Regions from separate parts of the Homo sapiens genome. Here regions 1, 3, 4 and 5 are each linked to region 2. Evidence: fine-mapped expression QTL. A gene starts in region 2. Each other region holds a variant in brackets. All regions are shown on one strand. Distances are from middle to middle. Region 1 has its middle 95 kb from the start of PTPN20. Region 2 holds the start of PTPN20 (protein tyrosine phosphatase non-receptor type 20). Region 3 has its middle 190 kb from the start of PTPN20. Region 4 has its middle 43 kb from the start of LINC02675. Region 5 overlaps ANXA8L1 (annexin A8 like 1).

Evidence for each region. PIP is the estimated chance that this variant, and not a neighbour inherited with it, causes the effect. A credible set is the group of variants that fine-mapping cannot tell apart.
Region 1: its variant is the best candidate, but not a certain one, in a credible set for the expression of PTPN20 in blood mononuclear cells (TOPMed, PIP 0.75).
Region 3: its variant is the best candidate, but not a certain one, in a credible set for the expression of PTPN20 in whole blood (TOPMed, PIP 0.82).
Region 4: its variant is the best candidate, but not a certain one, in a credible set for the expression of PTPN20 in testis (GTEx, PIP 0.51).
Region 5: its variant is the best candidate, but not a certain one, in a credible set for the expression of PTPN20 in kidney cortex (GTEx, PIP 0.73).

What each region holds. Positions count from the first base shown.
Region 1 is chr10:47,004,843-47,008,963 of GRCh38, forward strand. No RefSeq gene overlaps it. Among named protein-coding and RNA genes, the nearest start is that of PTPN20, 95 kb to the left of the region's middle. The variant C/T (reference allele first, on the strand shown) is at 2,423.
Region 2 is chr10:46,909,446-46,913,566 of GRCh38, forward strand. PTPN20 (protein tyrosine phosphatase non-receptor type 20) reads left to right here and starts at 1,983. Exons shown (of 11, transcript NM_001042357.5): 1 at 1,983-2,056.
Region 3 is chr10:47,096,060-47,100,180 of GRCh38, forward strand. No RefSeq gene overlaps it. Among named protein-coding and RNA genes, the nearest start is that of PTPN20, 190 kb to the left of the region's middle. The variant T/C (reference allele first, on the strand shown) is at 2,392.
Region 4 is chr10:47,574,815-47,578,935 of GRCh38, forward strand. It overlaps a transcript of ANXA8 not described here. Among named protein-coding and RNA genes, the nearest start is that of LINC02675, 43 kb to the right of the region's middle. The variant G/A (reference allele first, on the strand shown) is at 2,321.
Region 5 is chr10:46,389,867-46,393,987 of GRCh38, forward strand. ANXA8L1 (annexin A8 like 1) reads left to right here. Exons shown (of 12, transcript NM_001098845.3): 12 at 1,005-1,912. The coding sequence ends at 1,064. Among named protein-coding and RNA genes, the nearest start is that of LINC00842, 6.4 kb to the right of the region's middle. The variant G/A (reference allele first, on the strand shown) is at 2,027.

The sequences.
Region 1 (4,121 bases), 95 kb after region 2:
CTGAGGAACTTCAACATTCACTTCAACCCTGATTGCCCTCCAGGGCCTGGCCTAAGAACTATCTCTTCTATGAAGCCTTCTAACACTCATCTCTCCCTCTGCTGATTCCTTCAGCAATGCTTCTCAAACTCTGGTGAAGGACCCGTTTTATTTACCAACTGATAGACCTGAACACAGCCTAAAGATCCAACAGATATTTACTAGGAGGTGTGGTGGGGCTAAGCTGAGGATGGCGTCTGAAACTGGATGGGCATTGCTCACTTTCTTTTTTTTTTTTTTAATTTCATTATTATTATACTTTATGTTTTAGGGTACATGTGCACAATGTGCAGGTTAGTTACATATGTATACATGTGCCATGCTGGTGTGCTGCACCCATTAACTCGTCATTTAGCATTAGGTATATCTCCTAATGCTATCCCTCCCCCCTCCCCCCACCCCACAACAGTCCCCAGAGTGTGATGTTCCCCTTCCTGTGTCCATGTGTTCTCATTGTTCAATTCCCACCTATGAGTGAGAACATGCGGTGTTTGGTTTTTTGTCCTTGCGATAGTTTACTGAGAATGATGATTTCCAATTTCATCCATGTCCCTACAAAGGACATGAACTCATCATTTTTTATGGCCGCATACTATCCCATGGTGTATATGTGCCACATTTTCTTAATCCAGTCTATCATTGTTGGACATTTGGGTTGGTTCCAAGTCTTTGCTATTGTGAATAGTGCTGCAATAAACATACATGTGCATGTGTCTTTATAGCAGCATGATTTATAGTCCTTTGGGTATATACCCAGTAATGGGATGGCTGAGTCAAATGGTATTTCTAGTTCTAGATCCCTGAGGAATCGCCACACTGACTTCCACAATGGTTGAACTAGTTTACAGTCCCACCAACAGTGTAAAAGTGTTCCTATTTCTCCACATCCTCTCCAGCACCTGTTGTTTCCTGACTTTTTAATGATTGCCATTCTAACTGGTGTGAGATGGTATCTCATTGTGGTTTTGATTTGCATTTCTCTGATGGCCAGTGATGGTGAGCATTTTTTCGTATGTTTTTTGGCTGCATAAATGTCTTCTTTTGAGAAGTGTCTGTTCATGTCCTTTGCCCACTTTTTGATGGGGTTGTTTGTTTTTTTCTTGTAAATTTGTTTGAGTTCATTGTAGATTCTGGATATTAGCCCTTTGTCAGATGAGTAGGTTGCAAAAATTTTCTCCCATTTTGTAGGTTGCCTGTTCACTCTGATGGTAGTTTCTTTTGCTCTGCAGAAGCTCTTTAGTTTAATTAGATCCTATTTGTCAATTTTGGCTTTTGTTGCCATTGCTTTTGGTGTTTTAGACATGAAGTCCTTGCCCATGCCTATGTCCTGAATGGTAATGCCTAGGTTTTCTTCTAGGGTTTTTATGGTTTTAGGTCTAATGTTTAAGTCTTTAATCCATCTTGAATTAATTTTTGTATAAGGTGTAAGGAAGGGATCCAGTTTCAGCTTTCCACATATGGCTAGCCAGTTTTCCCAACACCATTTATTAAATAGGGAATCCTTTCCCCATTGCTTGTTTTTCTCAGGTTTGTCAAAGATCAGATAGTTGTAGATATGTGGCGTTATTTCTGAGGGCTCTGTTCTGTTCCATTGATCTATATCTCTGTTTTGGTACCAGTACCATGCTGTTTTGGTTACTGTAGCCTTGTAGCATAGTTTGAAGTCAGGTAGCGTGATGCCTCCAGCTTTGTTCTTTTGGCTTAGGATTGACTTGGCGATGCGGGCTCTTTTTTGGTTCCATATGAACTTTAAAGTAGTTTTTTCCAATTCTGTGAAGAAAGTCATTGGTAGCTTGATGGGGATGGCATTGAATCTATAAATTACCTTGGGCAGTATGGCCATTTTCACGATATTGATTCTTCCTACCCATGAGCATGGAATGTTCTTCCATTTCTTTGTATCCCTTTAATTTCACCTTCAAAGTGGAAAAGTGCGAGGAGTACATGGTAGGGCCTGAAGGGGTTAGAGCAGTGTAGCTCTTATCTGCTCTAAAAGGTGACCAGCCAGGGCTCCTTTCCAGAACAGAGTCACACTGAGGAGAAACCTTAGAATCAAAGTTGAGGAGAGAATGGAGAGAATGGGATAAAGAAAAGAGAAGATCCTATAAAAGTGATTGAGGAGAATAGAGCCAGAAAACCTCAGAAAGCAAGCTCAGTGAACTTATAAGAGCTGTCTGTCCAAGTCAAGTTTAGTTCAGGAAATCCAAATTCACATGGAAACAAGCACTAGAAAATATTATGATCAAATCCCGTACAAGTTACCATAAGAAAAAAAAAAGACTGAGGAGCTGAATAGCATCCCTTACAAACAATGAAGGTACACCAGAAAGATACACTCAAAACACAGTTCTCAATGGCAAGCAGCTCGGGAAGTCACAGAAAA[C/T]GATATCCTACTATTTCAAAATGAGCTTAAAGACAATAGGAGAATTGCATAAAACAGGATGGAATAACAAAAATCAGAACTAGAAAAATTTAAAGCAGTATGAAAATCAAGAAAGAGTTAGAAACAAAAATTAGAAATAAAATCTATAAACTAGAAGGAACACAAAAAAATTGATAACTGATGCTTTACAATAAATAGAAAGCTTAAGAGGAATAATTTCAAAACAAAATGGAGAAAGAAAACAGGATTTAAGAGCATAAGAAGGATCAATGATAGGTAAAGAAGACTAGTAGATAGATAACAGAAAGTTTAAAGAAGAAAAACCAAAGCAAGGGTTCAGAACAAATTCACTAATTCAAGAAATATTTAGAGTAATAATTAAAGAAAATTTTCCTGAAATAATTGTTTTTAAAATTATATGTTGAAGTATCATAGTACATACCTGAAACCATCAAATGAGTATGACCAATACCAAGGTTTAATAAATTTTAAGTAAAATTGCTGCAGTTTGAAGAAAGAAAATGGGGAGGGGGGAGGATTTACGCAAAAGAATATGAGGAAAAGAAAATTAGATGATTATCAGATTTTTAAGAGTAATGCTTTAATACAAAAGAAGATGGAATAATAAGATGTCCAAGGAAAGATTTTTATGAGCCAATATGTTATGTCTAGAAAAACTGACCTTGATGCACAGGGTGAAAATTGAAATCAACATGCAAGAGCTCAGAAAATATTGTTCCCAAGAGCCATTCCTCAATAGATGCAGAAAAAAAATTCGAATCAAATTTGATATCCATTCTATATTTTAAAAATAAAAAATTTTAGTAAACTTGGAATAGAAGGGAATTACCTTAATCTGCTAGGGCATAGCTACAGCAAACTTACAACAGAAGCACATTTTATGGTAAAACACTGTTTCTCTCCTATAAGTTAAGTACTGTTTTGGACTGGTCTGAAGAATGGATTGGAATGCAACTGGGGAAACTGAGTCCATCACACAGCCAGGCTTGGAAATAATAACCCCAGGGAAACAACTAAACGTCCCTTTATGCAAAAGAACCTATCTTCCTCACTGGTAACACTGCCAGAATTCTTTTTCAGATACGGAGGGGGGGTGGATTTGGTTAATTATACTCCATAGAGCACCTTTAAAATTCTGTCAAGCCTTTCTCCTCAGGATCACCACTGAGATGTTAGCGATCAGAACCATCTCTCTTACAAATCAGATGTATAGAAGGCATTTCACAGTCCAAACTGAAATATGTATGTTCACAGTATTTCATTCTCCAAGCATATACATCTCCAGCAGAGCACAAGACTCTACGGTTGCTGAAGGGCTTATTTACCAGTAATTCTGGCTGCATGAAGCAGAAAATGAGGTAAACATTAAAGCGAGTAGCAACAAAGGACTGAATCAAAGAGGCTGGCTTTCCAAGAGCCTGAGCTTTACTGAATGGCCTTACAAAACTAAATGGTGCCTGGGTCCTTTCGGTACTTCCCGAGCTGCTTGCCGTTGAGAACTGGGGCATGCTGGGGCCTCACCAGGATGTCTGGGCTGGCATACCTGTGGGGTCAACTTATTTCCATGAGAGTTCTTATGGCCTCTAGGGAAGACAATGACAGGGCCTCTGGCACCGACTGCCACCCCCAGAGCTAGGTGGCATGCCACTTGCTATGACATTAGAGCACAATGATCATT
Region 2 (4,121 bases):
GCTTGCAAAGCTCCTAGTGCTACTGGTAATTGGTAAGACTCAAGGGTTTAAAGAGGCCTCCAAAGAAGGGTAGTAAACTGTGATGGGCCCTAAACTTTATAGTTCTTCGAATTTTTCACAGGTAAAAGGACAGAAAGCCAAGAAGAGCCTTCTGGGTCACTGGCTTCTGGGAATATTGTGTGGTCAAGCAGGAAGTCTGGGGGAGATGGAATGACACCTCAGGGTCCACTCTTACCAACTGTTCATTTAGCCTCCATGCAAGGATTTCCTGGTGATGTGAATGGGGGTTATTCCCTCTGTGTGTCTTGGAGCAGCCATGCTGCTCATGTTTGTGAAATGATGACCAGTGCAGAATCTTGATGTTAGGCACTATGAAGAAACATTAGACATGGGGTCCATCTTTAAAGGGGAATCTTACCCTGGTGATATAGTTTGGATATTTGTCCCATCTAAATCTAATGTTGGGCTGGGTGCGTTGGCTCATGCCTGTAATCCCAGCACTTTGGGAGGCTGAGGCGGGCGGATCACCTGAGGTCAGGTGTTCAAGACCAGCCTGGCCAACACAGTGAAACCTCGTCTCTACTAAAAATACAAAAATTAGCCAGGCATGGTGGCATGCTCCTGTAGTCCCAGCTACTGGGGAGGCTGAGGCAGGAGAATCACTTGAACTGGGGAGGTGGAGATTACAGTGAGCTGAGATCACGCCACTGCACTCCAGCCTGGGCGACAGAGCGAGACTCCATCTCAAAATAAATAAATAAATAAATAAAATCTAGTGTTGAAATTTGATCCCCAATGTTGGAGGTGGGGCCTGGTGGGAAGTGTCTGGGTCATGTGGGTAGATCCTTTATGAATGACTTGGTGCTAGTCTCATGGAACTGAGTGAGTTCTTAGTCTTTGTTTTCATGAGAACTGGTCATGGAAAAGAGCCTGGCACCTCCCACCTCTCTCTCTTCCTCTGTCTTGCACACATTGGCTCTCCTTTGTCTTCTGCCATGAGTGGAAGCTTCCTGAGGCCCTCATCAAAAGCGGGTGGTGGTGCCATGTTTCTTTTACAGCCTGTGAAACTGTGAAACTAACAAACCTCTTTTCTTTATAAATTACCCAGCCTCAGGTATTGCTTTATAGCAACACAAACAAACTAAGACATATGGCAATGGCGTGGGTTGCTTGCAGGGTACCTTGGCTGCTACAGAAAGAAAAAGTCTCTGTAGAGACTCACTGTCAGTGACTCACGGAGCAGAAGGCTGGCCTCAGAGCCTGGACAGAGGGTAGCTGTCACTGCTTAACTGCAGTTCAGCTCAAGCATATGGCTCTCTGTGGGACCAGCACTGAAGGCTGGGGGATAAGTGAGGCAGGTCTTGTCACACCTTCAGGGTATCTGGATTCACCAAAGTGGCTCAGGTCAGGACCAATGAATAGAGGTTTGTTCGTCAAGATAAAAAGATTCTGGCTTCCTGTTTTCAGGCAATGCCAACGATTGAATTCCCTCTACATTGACCACCCTTGCTGAAGTTGTCTTAATTGACCTAGCAGCCAACTGACCTCATATTCTGGCACAGGCTCTGACTCCTTTTGCCTATCTGCCCTGCTCTGATACTACAAAGAGACCCCCCCACCCCAGCCCTCTGGGGCCTCATTAGGGGCTTAGAGGGCAGGCGTGGGTCAGGCGAGCATTCCTGGAGAACACAGTCCTCAGTGGTTCAGGATATGAGCATAGCTCAGAGAGCTGTTGACATTATCAGCCTGGCCTGGGAGAGGGGGACCCGCACAGGGTGGTGCACAGGGCCCGCAGGGAATTTACAGCGGCGTCCGCGGCGATGGGCTCTCAGTGCCTTGGAAGACCGGTAGAGGCAGGTTCTGTCTCTCCCGGCCTGGCAAGCAGAGGGCCGCGGCGCAGGGCAGAGTGCCGCGGCGCAGGGCAAAGCTCCAGTGCGCAGGCTCGCGGGCGCAGGTGGGATTGGATAGCGACGAAGGCCGGCAGGCTAGGCGTGGACCCAACTGGCGAGGCTGCTGGGGTTGCAGCGGGACAGTTGGGGCGGCCCCGCAGGCCCAGGTGAGGAAAGGTGGCTGGGGGCCAGGTGGGCAGGGGGCGTGCGGGAGGCCGCTGCGCCGGGCTGTGGGAGGGCGGGCGTGAAGAAGGAAGATGCCGTTGACGTGCAGGGGTCACAAGGCGTGGGTTGTGGCCCTGGCCCGGGAGACTGCCCGGGTGGGCCTGAGCTGTGAAGTAGTGTCGCTGCAGCCAGAGGGCAGGACGTGATTCTGGCCGTGTGATGCCAGCTGCACTGTGACGCGTGTTGGGGCGCCTATGCGAGACGGGACCGGGACAGGAACCCTGTGGCTCTGTGGTAGGGGAATGCCACCAACTCCCTGAGGAGCAGCCGTGTGGTATGATTGGTAAGAAGCCATCATCAGGCGCTGAGACAGCCCAGAACTTCCCAATGACTCAAGGGCGGGTGGAGGTCGAGGGACCTAGAAAGAAAGAACATGAATTCATCAATCCATTCAGCAGCTATTTTGAACGCCTCCTGTGTGCCAGATGCTGTTCTAGAAGCTCAGAATATCTATGAACGCGATAGGCAATGCCCCCATATGCCAAGGCCCTCATATGCTAGCCTTGACTCAAGGAAAACTGTAGGATGGGGTAGGTTTCATTTTTGGAAGTTGTGGAATCAGTACTTATGTTTTGAATGTGTTAGGTTTGAGATGCCCAGTAGGTTTTTCCCAATAGAAGACATAAGCATAGCTGGGAAGAATTTTGCAGAGGACTCTGACCACCTACCACCTACAGGTGCCATGAATATTTAGCACATTTGATTTTTCACATTACCTATTCACCTTCTCTCCATTTATCAGTCACCTGGTAGTTTTTTTTAGTATGGTGAAATATACACACATAAATTATCTAGTAGATATTTGGGTTGAGATATCAAATGTGCTTTTTAGAAATTTAAATCTGAAGTTCTGGAGGATGTCGGGCTAGAGTTAACCTTTGGAATCGGCATCATATACTGTACATAGTATTTAAAATATATGGGACTGGTGAAGACATCTAGTTTAATAGTGTACACAAAGAAGAGGAGGCGAAGCCAAAAAAGGGAGGGAGGTAGTGGTCAACCATGTTGAATGTTACCGTATAAGATGACTTTGGTAATTAGGAGGATTTTAATCATTTTGACAAGAACAACTTTAATGGGGAAGAGGGGCCTTAAGGTTGGGTAGAGTTTTTTTCAAGATAGAAGAAAGCAGAATGTTTATATGGCAATGTGATTAAACTCGTAGAAAGGAAAAACTGCTGCAGATGAAAGAGGGGAACATTGTAAAGGGTAGTTGTTGAATACCTGAGAAAGGAGAAGACCCTAAGCAGGTGAGTAGTTGGTTTTGAAATGAGCAGGGACACTTACTCTGTTGTAACTAGAGGGGAAGCTGAGATAACAGGTGCAGATACAGTGGGTGGTGGGAAAAGAGTCTATTGGTATAGGCATCCATCAGCTTAGAGGGAGGGCAGCGGGGGAGAGGAAAGGTGTGGGAACTTGGAGGAGAGATATGTGACAGAGTCCTAGAGAGGGTGAAAGTGAGCGTACTAGAGAAATAGAGTTGGATTCCCAGGCAGTGCTCAGGGCCCATTTGAGACGTGTAGTCTTACATTTAAAGTGATATAAACCAGTGTGGTTGTTTCATGTTCAACTTTGGAAGGGTGTTGTGAGGATTAAAGAAGGTAATGCATGAAAAACATTTAATAGAGTGTCAGGCGTTTAATGAATGTTAACGCTTTTTATTTGAGCCCTCGTTTTGTTTTTCTTTTCTGTTTATACATATGTGACTGAGGATGGCTGGCAATTACCACTTGACAGGCTGTTCTGGGGCATGTTCTCCCATCACAGAGAACTGCAGTTTGCAGCTACTCAGAAGTCTGGTTCCTGTTGTGTTTACATGTACACAGCTTGATAATTGAAGATGTTTGCTTTTTAGAGCCATTGTCCTGGACTGTTTGGGCTGGGGTTTGTCACAGTGACAGTCCTTAAGTTTTTGTGAAAATCTTTTATGACTGCATTTCATATTGGATCTGATGTACTGGTAATCTACAGAATCTACAAATCTAAGATTGGCAGGAAAATTTT
Region 3 (4,121 bases), 190 kb after region 2:
GGACGTGGGTGGGGACAAATAAGGGAATAAAAGCTGTACCCGCCCCACTCCCACACCAGCCAGCAGCGGTAAGCTGCTAGGATTGTTTCTTACGCTGTGGGAGCTTTGTTGTTTAGTTCCTCACGATATATTTTGCTGCTGCTTACCGTTTGGGTCCATGCCACCTTTAAGAGCTGTAACACTTGGCTTAGGAGCTGTAACACTCACTGCGAAGGTCCCCGGTTTTTTTTTTTTCTTTTGAGACAAGATCTTACTCTGCCACCCAGGCTGGAGTGCACTGGTGCAATATTGGCTCACTGTGATTTTCGCTTCTCCCGTTCAAGCTATTTGCTGACGTCAGCCTCCTGCGTAGCTGGGATTACAAGTGTGGTGTGCGCCACGATGCTGGGCTAATTTTTGTATTGTTAGTAGAGACGAGGTGTCACTGTGTTGGCCAGGCTGGTCTCAAAACTCTGGACCTCAACTGATCTTACCACCTTGGCCTCCCGAAGTGCTGGTGCTGGGATTACAGGCAGAAACTACTGTGCCTGGCTAAAACATCAATGCACTCAACAAGTATGATTAAAAGCTCAAATGTCTTATAAATATGGTTTAGAAGGCAAGTGATCTCTCTGCTATAAAGAAAAATGAAAAGGTAATCAGATTCTCCAGACAAAACAAAAAACTGTAAAAGTTATGGTACAAACACACAACAAGCTAATCTTGGTATAATCTTGTGTAATCAATAGCATTTAAGAAGGGAATAGGTTTGACTTTAAACTTTGGAATACTATCTATAGAACAGCAAACATTCACCGACCTAGGAAAATAAGCTTATTTTTAAGCACGTTTCTCTAATAAAAATGACTAATTATACCATAGGAAATTGCCATAATTTTCATATGATTCAACTTAACACATCATCACACTAACAAAAATGCTAGTCATTTGTGTTTGATTTTCAGAATCAACATACAAATCAATCACGAAAGATGTATTTGCAGAGCAAGGCATAAGTGATAAAACTTTTCAAAATCTAAAAGGCATGCTGTGTTTAGGAGAGGCACAAAGAAGTTCAGGGGCACCGAATTACATAGTGAGGAATCACAAGATACTGATTATATTTATTTTATGGAGCAAGAAACATTGTGGATATTATAAGAGAAAACAAATGGGTAAATACACTAATATTGAGAACTAAGACTTTCATTATAAGGAAAAGAAGGTACAAGTAAAAACTAAAAGGAAAAACCCTATTTTATTAAATTTGAATTAGAAATATCACTATAAATTCATGATTTTAGGTATATCCCTTTCACTCATCCATCCACACCTCCAAGTTCTGCCTACCAAAAAGACAAATAACAGCAGCAATGAGTCTATCTAGTAACCCAAATCTTGGTTTCCAAATACCATTTTTCACTGAAATGAGTCAGATATTCTTGGAGAAATCGATAATTATAGGCCTGGAGAAAGAAAATAAGTCTGGAGCACTTTGTTATGTCAGAAAGTAAGAAAGTGCTTGAATAATACTGGAAATACGTCAAAAGAATACAGAAGCCAGCCTTAAGGCAGTCCCATTGACCATATTTCAGATAATTTATGTATCAAGAAGTGTAACAATGAAAAAATATATGTGTGAATCTGTAGTAATAAAAGATTTTGCTTATATCTACAAAAATAGACATGGATAGTAGTTCCATGCAATTGTTCCAAACTGGAAATAATCCCAATGTCATCAACAATAGAATGGATAAATAATTGAGACACACTCATATAATGAGTGCCGAATAGCCTTGCTGTCACCTTTTGCATTAGCCCATAGTTCTCTCCCAGGGGTAGCTTCTTGCAAAACCAGGGAGAAGTCACCCCCACGTTAGCTAGCAACCATCCCCACCTCTCCTGCTGAGTGCTCCTGGATGCTCTGGCGAATGCATCTCTGCCCTCCACCAGCATTGATGGACCAGACAAAAGAATAATAGATTATACATATCAGCTAGGTCTGTGGTTCTTAATTCTTGCCCTGTATTAGAATCACACTAACATCCAAGCCTTACCTCCAAGACTCTGATTCAACATTTAAAAATTACCCCCAAAGGAGTCTAACGTTCAGCCAGAATGAACTAGGAAAAAATGTGACAAAGTCTGAGATAACAGAGTTCAATTTGTGCAGTCTCGATAGACTGGCTATTGAGTGTGGCTATAGACTGTGGTTAAATGTGGCACTGTTTAACCCTGGACATGGCGGAGAGGAAATAATAACCAGGACAATGTGGAGTCCAAAATACCTTTCACCAATTCCAGTTAAACTTTCCACAATAACATTGATTAATGTTGTGTGTTCAATGACAATATCAATAATAGAGTCTATCAATCACTCTATTGATTAATATAATTCTACTGATAATAGAA[T/C]CAATAACTATTCATTGATTGCTTGCAATGTGTCGGCCACTGTTTAAATATTTGACTTGTATTTTCTCCTTGTGTCAAATCCAGTTTCAAATGAAGCCCCCTCAGCAATAGGTTAACATTTGTACTAGGTTGAATTATTGGAACTTATTGCCATTTGACCATTTTTGTCCTGCTAAACGGTACTTTCACATGGTTCAATCTGATCCCACATTGCATGGCAGTACCAGCCTTAGCAGTGCCCAGAAGCTCACGGGAGCTGAGAAAGAGGCCGCGTGGTCAGAGGCAGGGAGAGGGGGCTCAGACCCAACCTGCAACACTAGAGCACCGTCTGCTAAACAGGAACATGGGGACTTTGGATCCTCATCCCCTAAAGTCGTTTTCAGGCCCCTGAACTACACCAACAGGAGGTGTGCAGGTTCCTAAAAGAAGAAGGGGACTCCCCATTTCAGAAGAGCCCATGGAGAGGTGCCAGGGATCACAAAGACCATGGACGAGGGGGACCCCACCTTGCCATTTAACCTGGAATTGACTCCGGTGCCAGAGAAGGGATTCGAATTTCCGATAAGCAGGATTTGATCATCGCTATGGACAGCAGTGGTTCAGAAGTTTTCCTGAGAGTTTTTGTTGGGGTTGTCCTGTCCCTTCCCTGTCCTTTATATGGAGGGTGCTGGGTGAGATGACTTGTCCTTAGGTGTATGGCTCACAAGGCCACCAGGTGAGCTGGAGAAGATGGCCACGTGATACCTGAGGGAGGGAGCCGCCCATCATGCAGATCAGGCCTTTGGGTTGGCTGTGGCAGCTGATGGCACTTGGGGATGGTGTCCCTGGAGGATGTGAGGCGTGTGTCCGGTGGGTAGGAACAGCCTGTGTGAACGTCGGGCAGCTGAAAAAGTGGAGGCGGCAGAGGCTGCTCTGTCAGTGCCTGCCTCTTGCTTCCTAACAGCACCCCTATTTTTATCTGGGACAGTGATGTGCCCAGCTGAGAGACTACATTTTCTGACCTTCACTGCAGCCAGGAGTAGTAAAGAAGATGGACGCATGAACCACTGCGAGGGGCTCTGTGGATGCTTTTTGCTGTGGAAAGTAGACTGTTGTGTCCTCCCCTTTCCTCCTTCCTGGCACCAGTGAGGTGATCCAAGGCCCTGTTTTCAGGCCACCATGGCTCTGAAAGCCTTTCGCAAGTGTATGTGTGGACCCTCTTCTCATGAGCACGTTCTCTCTCAGGAGATGCCCATTGTCCTGAAGTGCCTAGGATCTCCTGCAGGCCCACCCCTGGGCTTCCCTCCACACATCGTCTTCGTCTTATCTAAATCCTGGTTGGGTGCTGCATGAGGCTCAAGCTCGGGAGCCCTTCAGATGGGCCCAAAATGACAAAGGAGCACATTTGGTAACAGCAAGGTAGCAGGCTAGAGTCCAGCATCCTTGCCCCAGCACAGAAGTCCTTTCCCTCCCTGCCCACAGTATTTGGGACCATCACCCCCAAGACTCTAGGTTGTAAGAGAGAACATTTTACCACTAAAGACCAAGACCCAGACCCTGGCTGAGTCAGACCTTCCATCTGAGAGAAGGGCAGAGCCAGTTGCTGAACATGTAAGATGTTTCTCCAGCCGTGATGCTGGGAGCTGAGAGAAACACTTTCCTAGGCAATGTGGTAACAAAGAGAGCCAGAAACCTCCATTTCCCTCCAAGGTGCCCCACCCATTCATTCCTTTACTCCAGTAGCTTTACCA
Region 4 (4,121 bases), 670 kb after region 2:
TCAGTAGTAGTGCAGTCAGTGATTTCTGTTATTGCCTGTAAGCTAATTTGTTAGCCTAACACTTCAATTTGCTACGATCTGAGGAACTGAAAGCTAAGGCCTAAAATTTTATATGTGCTAAGTGTCGAATAATAGGTCAAAGCTGCATTCTTCCACAAGTAAAGATAATATGGGGCTTAACACAATTGCTTTAGCAATGTGATTTTCTCCCCTTTTTCTCTACTTGGTAAGGAGGGCTTATACCCCCACTAAGCAGGCACATGCCTGTAATCCCAGCTACTCAGGAGGCTGAGGCAGGAGAATCGCTTGAACCTGAGAGGCAGAGGTTGCATTGAGCTGAGATTGTGCCATTGCACTCCAGCCTGGGCAACAAGAGTGAAACTCAAAAAAAAAAAAAAAAAAAAGAAAGAAAGCAAGCAAGAAAGAAAGAAGGAAGGAAGGAAAGAAAGAGAGAGAAAGAAAGAAAAGTAAATCTGTGGATATTGTACAAAAGATTGTTTTATGATTTTTTAATTTTTTAACATAACTTTTATTGACTTGTATTTGTATTTTTATCAAACATACTTCATTTGTTTATTTATTTATTTTGAGATGAAATCTCACTCTGTCACCCAGGCTGGAGTGCAGTGGTGGGATCTTGGCTCACTGCAACCCCCGCCTTCCAGGTTCAAGCAATTCTCCTGCCTCAGCCTCCCACGTAACTGGGATTACAGGCATGAGCTACCATGCCCAACTAATTTTTTTATTATTAGTAGAGATGGAGTTTCACCATGTTGGCCAGGCTGGTCTCAAACTCCTGACCTCAGGTGCTCCACCTGCCTCAGCCTCCCAAAGTGTTAGTATTATAGGCATGAGCCACCGCACCCAGCCTCAAACATACTTTAGACAATTTTTCACCTCAGCACTATTGACATTTTAGGCTATGTAATTCTTTGTTATGGGGGCTCTCTCTGCCTTGTAGGATGTTTAGTAATATCCCTGGCCTCTACATATTAGATGTCAGGAAGACCCCTCAGTTATAACAATGACAAATATATTCAGATTGCCAAATGTCCCCTGTGGAGCAAATTCATCCCTTGTTGTGAACTGTGATCCAGAGAGCCAAATAGTGATACAAGGTTTATTGTTCACAATAGCTCGTCCCCTCCAATCCAGACATCTGCCTCACCATATTCCACTCCCCAGAGGCAACCACTTTCAACAATCTTAAATGTTTCATTTTTATTCTATTTAAAGCCTTTGCTCATTTTTAAATTGGGTTTTGTCCACATTATTGAGTGGTAAGAGTTCTTTATATACTCCACAGCCAGTTGTGGTAGTATAGGCCTATGGTCCCAGCTACTCAGAAGGCTGAGGCAGGAGGATAACTTGAGCCCAGAAGGTCAACACTAGTCTAGGCAACATAGCATGACCCTGTCTCTAAATGAGTCTTTGAAGTATATATATTCTAGGTAATTGACCTTTATCATGTATATAATTTGTAAATATTTCCTCTCAATCTATTAGTTGTCATTGCGCTTTCTTGATAGTCTCCTTTTTAATCTTGAGAAAGCATAATTTATTTTTCCTCTGGTTGGTGTGCTTTAGGTTGTATGTAAGAAACCATTGCCTAATCCATAGTCATGCAGATACATCCCTATCTTTTTTTTTTTTTTTTTTTGAGATGGTCTCGCTCTGTCGTCCAGATTGGAGTGCAGTGGTGTGATCTCATGGCTCATTGATAACTGCAGCCTCTACCTCCTAGGCTCAAGCAATCCTCCCCCTTCAGCCTCCCAAGTAGCTGGGACTATAGCACCAGCTATAGTCAGCCTCCCAGGTAGCTGGGAATATGGCACCAGGACTATAGCACATACCACCACTAAGCACAGCTAATTTCTGTATTTTTTGGAGAGACAAGGTCTCACCATGTTGCCCAGGCCAGTCTTGAACTCCCAGGCTCAAACAATCCTCCCACCTCAGCCTCCCAAAGTGCAGGATTACAGGTGTGAGCCACTGTGCCTGGCCTAGAGAGATTTTTTTAAGAAATAGTGACCAAAAATATCCCACATTTGATGGGAATTGTGAATCTACACATTGAAGATGCTCAACAAATTCAAAGCAGGATAAACTCAAAGAGATCCACACTGACACACATTATAATCAAATTGTAGAAAGCTAAAGACAGAAAAGCAGCAAGAGATAAGTGATTCATCCTGTACAAGGGATCTTCAGTAAGACTAACAGTTGCTTATCAGAAATCACGGAGTATAGAAGGCAGTGGTGGTGTGCTGGGCATGGTGGCATGTACCTGTAGTCCCAGCTGACTGAGGCTGAGACAGGA[G/A]AATTGCTTGAGCCTGGGAGGTGGAAGTTGCAGTGAGCTGAGATGGCGCCATTGCACTCCAGCCTGGGCGACAGAGCAAGACTCCATCTCAAAAAAAAAAAAAAAAAAACAGGGTTGGGGAAGCTCAGCATGGTGGCTCATGCCTGTAACTTCAGCACTTTTGGAGACTGAAGTGGGATCACCTGAGGCCAGGAGTCCACAACCAGCCTGGGCGACATAAGGAGACCCCATCTCTACAAAATAAAAATAATTAGCCAGACAAGGTGGCTCTGGCCTGTGGTCCTAGCTACTCAGGAGGCTGAGACAGGAGGATTGCTTGCAGCCAGCAGTTTAAGACTAGCCTGGACAACATAGTGAGACCCCGTCTCTACAAAATATAAATTAAAAAAATTAGCTGGGCATGGTGGTGTGCATCTGTAGTTCCAACTACTCATGAGGCTGAGACAGGAGGATCGTTTGAGACCAGAAGTTGGAGGTTACGGTGAGGTATGATCATACCACTGCACTCCAGCCTGGTTGACAGAGCAAGAACCTGTCACTAAAAAAATAATAAATGAATAAAAATATAAGAATGCTTGGCCTGGTCTGGGCGTGGTGGCTCACGCCTGTAATCCCAGCACTTTGGGAGGCCGAGGCGGGTGGATCACCTGAGGTCGGGAGTTTGAGACCAGCCTGGCCAACATGGAGAAACCCTGTCTCTACTAAAAAAATACAAAATTAGCCAGGCATGGTGGCACATGCCTGTAATCCCAGCTACTCGGGAGGCTGAGGCAGGAGAATTGCTTGAACCTGGGAGGCAGAGGTTGCAGTAAGCCGAGGTCACACCCGATTGCACTCCAGCCTGGGCAAAAAGAGGGAAACTCCACCTCAAAAAAAAAAAAAAAAGAAAAAGAATGCTTGGCTGGGCACAGTGGCTCATGCCTGTAATCCCTGCACTTTGGGAGGCCGAGGCAGGTGGATCACCTGAGGTCAGGAGTTCGAGACCAGCCTGGCCAATATGGTGAAACCCCATCTCTACTAAAAATACAAAAATTTGCTGTGTGTGATGGCACGTGCCTGTAATCCCAGCTACTTGGGAGGCTCAGGCAGGAGAATCACTTGAACCCAGAAGGCAGAGTTTGCAGTGAGCAGAGATTGTGCCACTGCACTGCAGCCTGGGCAACAGAGCAAGACTCGGGCTAAAAAAAAAAGCTGAAGTGAGTCCTTCAGGCTAAAATGAAAAGATACAAGATAATAACTCAGAGCTATATGAAAAAATAAAAATCACTGGTAAAGGCAACTATATAGCTAAATATAAAAGCTAGTATTATTGTATTTTGGGTATGTTATTCCTCTTTCTCCTTTATGATTTAAAAACATGCATGAAATAATATGCATCTATGTTAATAGGAACTAATTGTTTAAAGACATAATTTGTAACAATATAGCTAGGGGACAGAGAAAGGAGCAGAGTTAATGTATGCTATTGAAGCTGAGTTGGTATCAGTCTGAACTAGACTTAGAACTCAGCATGTTAACTGAAATCTTCATAGTATCCACTAAAAACAAAACTTTAAAAATATACAGAAAAGGAACTAAGAAAGGATCAAAATATTACAGGATAAATCATTAACCAAACACAAAAGAAGGTACTGAGGAGCAAAACACTTTATGTAGAAACTAAACAGCAGGATGACATAAGTAAGTTCTTTGGTGTGTGGGTTTTTCTGTTTTTCTTTTTTGGGGTTTCTTTGAGACAGAGTCTTGCTCTGTAACTCAGGCTGGAGTGCAGTGTTTCATTCTCAGCTCACTGCAGCCTTTG
Region 5 (4,121 bases), 520 kb before region 2:
GTGAGACCGTGTCTAGAAAGGAAAAAGTTAAAAAAATTTCATTGTAGTTTGAAACCCGTAATGAGATTTCAGGCTCAAAGCAGGCAAATTTTACTAAATGGTGAAAAGTAGACAATAACCATGAGACCTAAACTGGTCCAGAGTGTGGAAAGTGGGTCTAGCCCCAGTCTACCCCTTACTCACCATGCCGTTGTGAATGAATTCACTCCCCTCTCTTGGCCCCGCTGTCCTCAACTGCATGAAGAAGAATCTGGGTGATCTGACCTGGCCCATTTCCCAGCTCTGTATGCAGACCCCGGACTAGCCAGTCCCATCAGGACCTACCAGTATCTAAGAAACAGGGCTCCTCAGTCATCGGACCACAAGGTCAGTCTCATCAGGAGACAAACACTGTGGACCCGATGTGAGCCAGATGCAGGGCAGACCAGCTCGCCTTCCTCCTGCTGTACCCTCACCACGTCTCAGCAAGATGCACAGCAGCACAGCATTGATCTCATTTCATAGATGAGTCCCACAGAGGTGAAGGGGCTTGCCTCGGCCACACCGTCAGGGTGCGATGGTCCAGGCTCCCTCCACCCCCGGCCCTGCTCCCAGGTGTGTGCTGATGCCTCACTCTCAGCCTTGATTCCCAAGCTGCCACAGCAGGTGTTGAATAATGATGCATCGTGTTGTGTAAATGAATGGCTGGGCACCCTGGCTCCCGAATAGAAGAACCCTGGGACAGCTGACCCCTTCCTTGTTTAGGAGTGGAACTGTCTCTGATTCATTTTCCACATCAATCCTGCATGTAGTTGGTAAGAGAATCAAAAGGAAATGTAAAGGAATAGCCTGAAATTAAAAACCAGGAAAGAGGGGTGATGGCACAACCCCTGCGGCTAGGAACCCTGGAGGGCCGGGCCAGGTGCAGGCCAGGGGCACACCTCTTAGTCATAATAACACAGCCGCCACTGCCGAGCCAGGCACAAACAAACCCCTTCTCACGCTTATGCGCCTCCTACCCACAGGAAGACACCAGCGGCGACTACAAGAACGCCCTGCTGAGCCTGGTGGGCAGCGACCCCTGAGGCACAGAAGAACAAGAGCAAAGACCATGAAGCCAGAGTCTCCAGGACTCCTCACTCAACCTCGGCCATGGACGCAGGTTGGGTGTGAGGGGGGTCCCAGCCTTTCGGTCTTCTATTTCCCTATTTCCAGTGCTTTCCAGCCGGGTTTCTGACCCAGAGGGTGGAACCGGCCTGGACTCCTCTTCCCAACTTCCTCCAGGTCATTTCCCAGTGTGAGCACAATGCCAACCTTAGTGTTTCTCCAGCCAGACAGATGCCTCAGCATGAAGGGCTTGGGGACTTGTGGATCATTCCTTCCTCCCTGCAGGAGCTTCCCAAGCTGGTCACAGAGTCTCCTGGGCACAGGTTATACAGACCCCAGCCCCATTCCCATCTACTGAAACAGGGTCTCCACAAGAGGGGCCAGGGAATATGGGTTTTTAACAAGCGTCTTACAAAACACTTCTCTATCATGCAGCCGGAGAGCTGGCTGGGAGCCCTTTTGTTTTAGAACACACATCCTTCAGCAGCTGAGAAATGAACACGAATCCATCCCAACCGAGATGCCATTAACATTCATCTAAAAATGTTAGGCTCTAAATGGACGAAAAATTCTCTCGCCATCTTAATAACAAAATAAACTACAAATTCCTGACCCAAGGACACTGTGTTATAAGAGGCGTGGGCTCCCCTGGTGGCTGACCAGGTCAGCTGCCCTGGCCTTGCACCCCTCTGCATGCAGCACAGAAGGGTGTGACCATGCCCTCAGCACCACTCTTGTCCCCACTGAACGGCAACTGAGACTGGGTACCTGGAGATTCTGAAGTGCCTTTGCTGTGGTTTTCAAAATAATAAAGATTTGTATTCAACTCAAAGTATCTTTGGATGTTTAGCAGGGACCAGTGTAGGACCAATTTAATTTGTCAGAAACAGAGCTTTGGGGAGCCACGAAGCCTGAGCGCCTCGTGGGCATCTCCCAGTGG[G/A]AACACTGGATGGGCTGTACCTGAGCACCTCGTGGGCATCTCCCAGTGGGAACACTGGATGGGCTGCAGCCACCGCTGCCCTGGGGACAACTCTTGCAAATGAGGGTAGATTCTATTCACCTCCTGATGTGTAGGCTACATCCTTGTATCTCAGGGTTAGAGAGGGATTTAAAGTCAGCTGGTGCTGTTCCGACCTGTGGCCTGACTACCCCCTTGGCATCCACCCAGGGGTGGTCCTTGGTGTGCTTGGGGTGCACTTGGGTACTCAGGGTGTACTGGTGATACTCAGGGTGCAGTTGAGTACTCCGGGTGCACTTGGCTGCCTCCAAAGATGGGACTCACTGCGTCCTTTGACAGCCCAATCTTTTTCCAATGGATGTGACCAGCAAAGTTCTTGTTTTACCTGAACCAAAATCAGCCGCATCAAGCCCACACCTCTGCCATCTAGGGCCACAACACTTATTCCCTCCCAGTAACAACATTTTGGATATCTGAAGAAGGCCCACAAATTCTGCGATGACCTCTGTCAAAGCCCAGTGTCCCCAGTCCCTTCAGTGGTCCCTCCTGGAGCCTGTTTGGGGCCATCACCCCTGAACATGCTCCAGTTTGCAAACTTCCCCTCAAGTGGCCCTGAGGGGTAAGCGTGTGCCCAGGAACCAGCCTGATCAGGGAGATGGGAATAGCGTGGGCTCTGAATTCACTTGGACGGGAGGCAGATTCTGGCTCTGCCCTGCACCAGCTCCATGACTTTGACTGTGTTAGGCTATTCTTGTGTTGCCATAAAGCAATACCTGAGTCTGGGTAATTTATTTAAAAAGGGGGTTTAATTGGCTCACAGTCCTGCAGGCTATATAGGAAGCATGGTGCCGGCATCTGCTCAGCTTCTGGGGAGGCCTCTGGAGGGACCTTACAGTCATGGCAGAAGGTGAAGGGGGAGCCAACATCACGTAGCGAGAGTGGGAGCAAGAGAGGTGGGGGGAGGTGCCACACACTTTTAAACAGCCAGATCCTGTCAGAGCTCAAGATGGTGAGGACAGCATCAGGCCATGAGGGATCTGCCCCCTGACCTAAACACCTCCCACCAGGCCCCACCTCCAACACTGGGGATCACATTTCAACATGAAATTTGGAGGGGATATCCAAACTATATCAGTGACTGAGTCACTTACTCTCTCTCTGAGCCTCAGTTTCCTCACATTTCTATACAGGGTGGGCTCCCAGTTACAACTGCTGCCTTTCGAACCACCCCAGAGCCAGTAGCATAAAATCCTCATGTATAATGTTCACAGATTCTGTGGGTCAGCAGTTCTGGAGGGCACAGCAAGGTGCTTGTCTCTGACCCAACAAGTAAGACGACTCAGTCTCAGTTGGGAAGACCTGAAGGTTGGGGTGACTCTAGGGCAGAGGGGTGCAACCATCTGGATGCCTCTTCACTCACATGTTGGGCCCCTGGTGAGATGGCTGGAAGGCCAGGCTCAACTGGGACTGTCCCCTGCGCTCCTACACGTAGCTTCTCCAGCAAGGTGGCCTCAGGGTAGCAAGTGGTAGGGCTCCACCGTCTCCCAGTGGACAAGAAGGACACCACATTGCCTTCTGTGAGTTAGCGTCAGGAGTCACATGGCATCACTTCCCCGGTGCCCTATCAGTTGAAGACACCACAAGCCACCCCAGCTTCAAGGAAAGGGGACACAGACCCAATCTGTCAATGAGAAGAGTGTCAACGAATCTGGGGGCTGTTTTTAAATCCACCACAAGTGGTGCTCAGAATATTTAACAACTGGTGCAGCACAACCCACTCACCTGAATGGGTGCTGTCTGCAGGGGTGGAGCAGAGCTCGAGTAGCGGCCCCTGCAGGGCCAGGCCTCAACCCTTAGTGCTGGATGGCAGGGTGTCTGTGGGGCCCCAGGGGAGGCTCCTGGGTGTTGGGGATGCAGCAGCTATTCACCAACATGTCTTAGTCTTTTCAGACTGACATACAAAATACCATAAATAGGTGGCTTAAATAACAGACACTTATTTTGCACAGTTCTGGAGGCTGGGAAGTCTAAGATCAATTCAGTTCCTGGGGAGGGCCTCTTCCTGGCTTGCGGACGG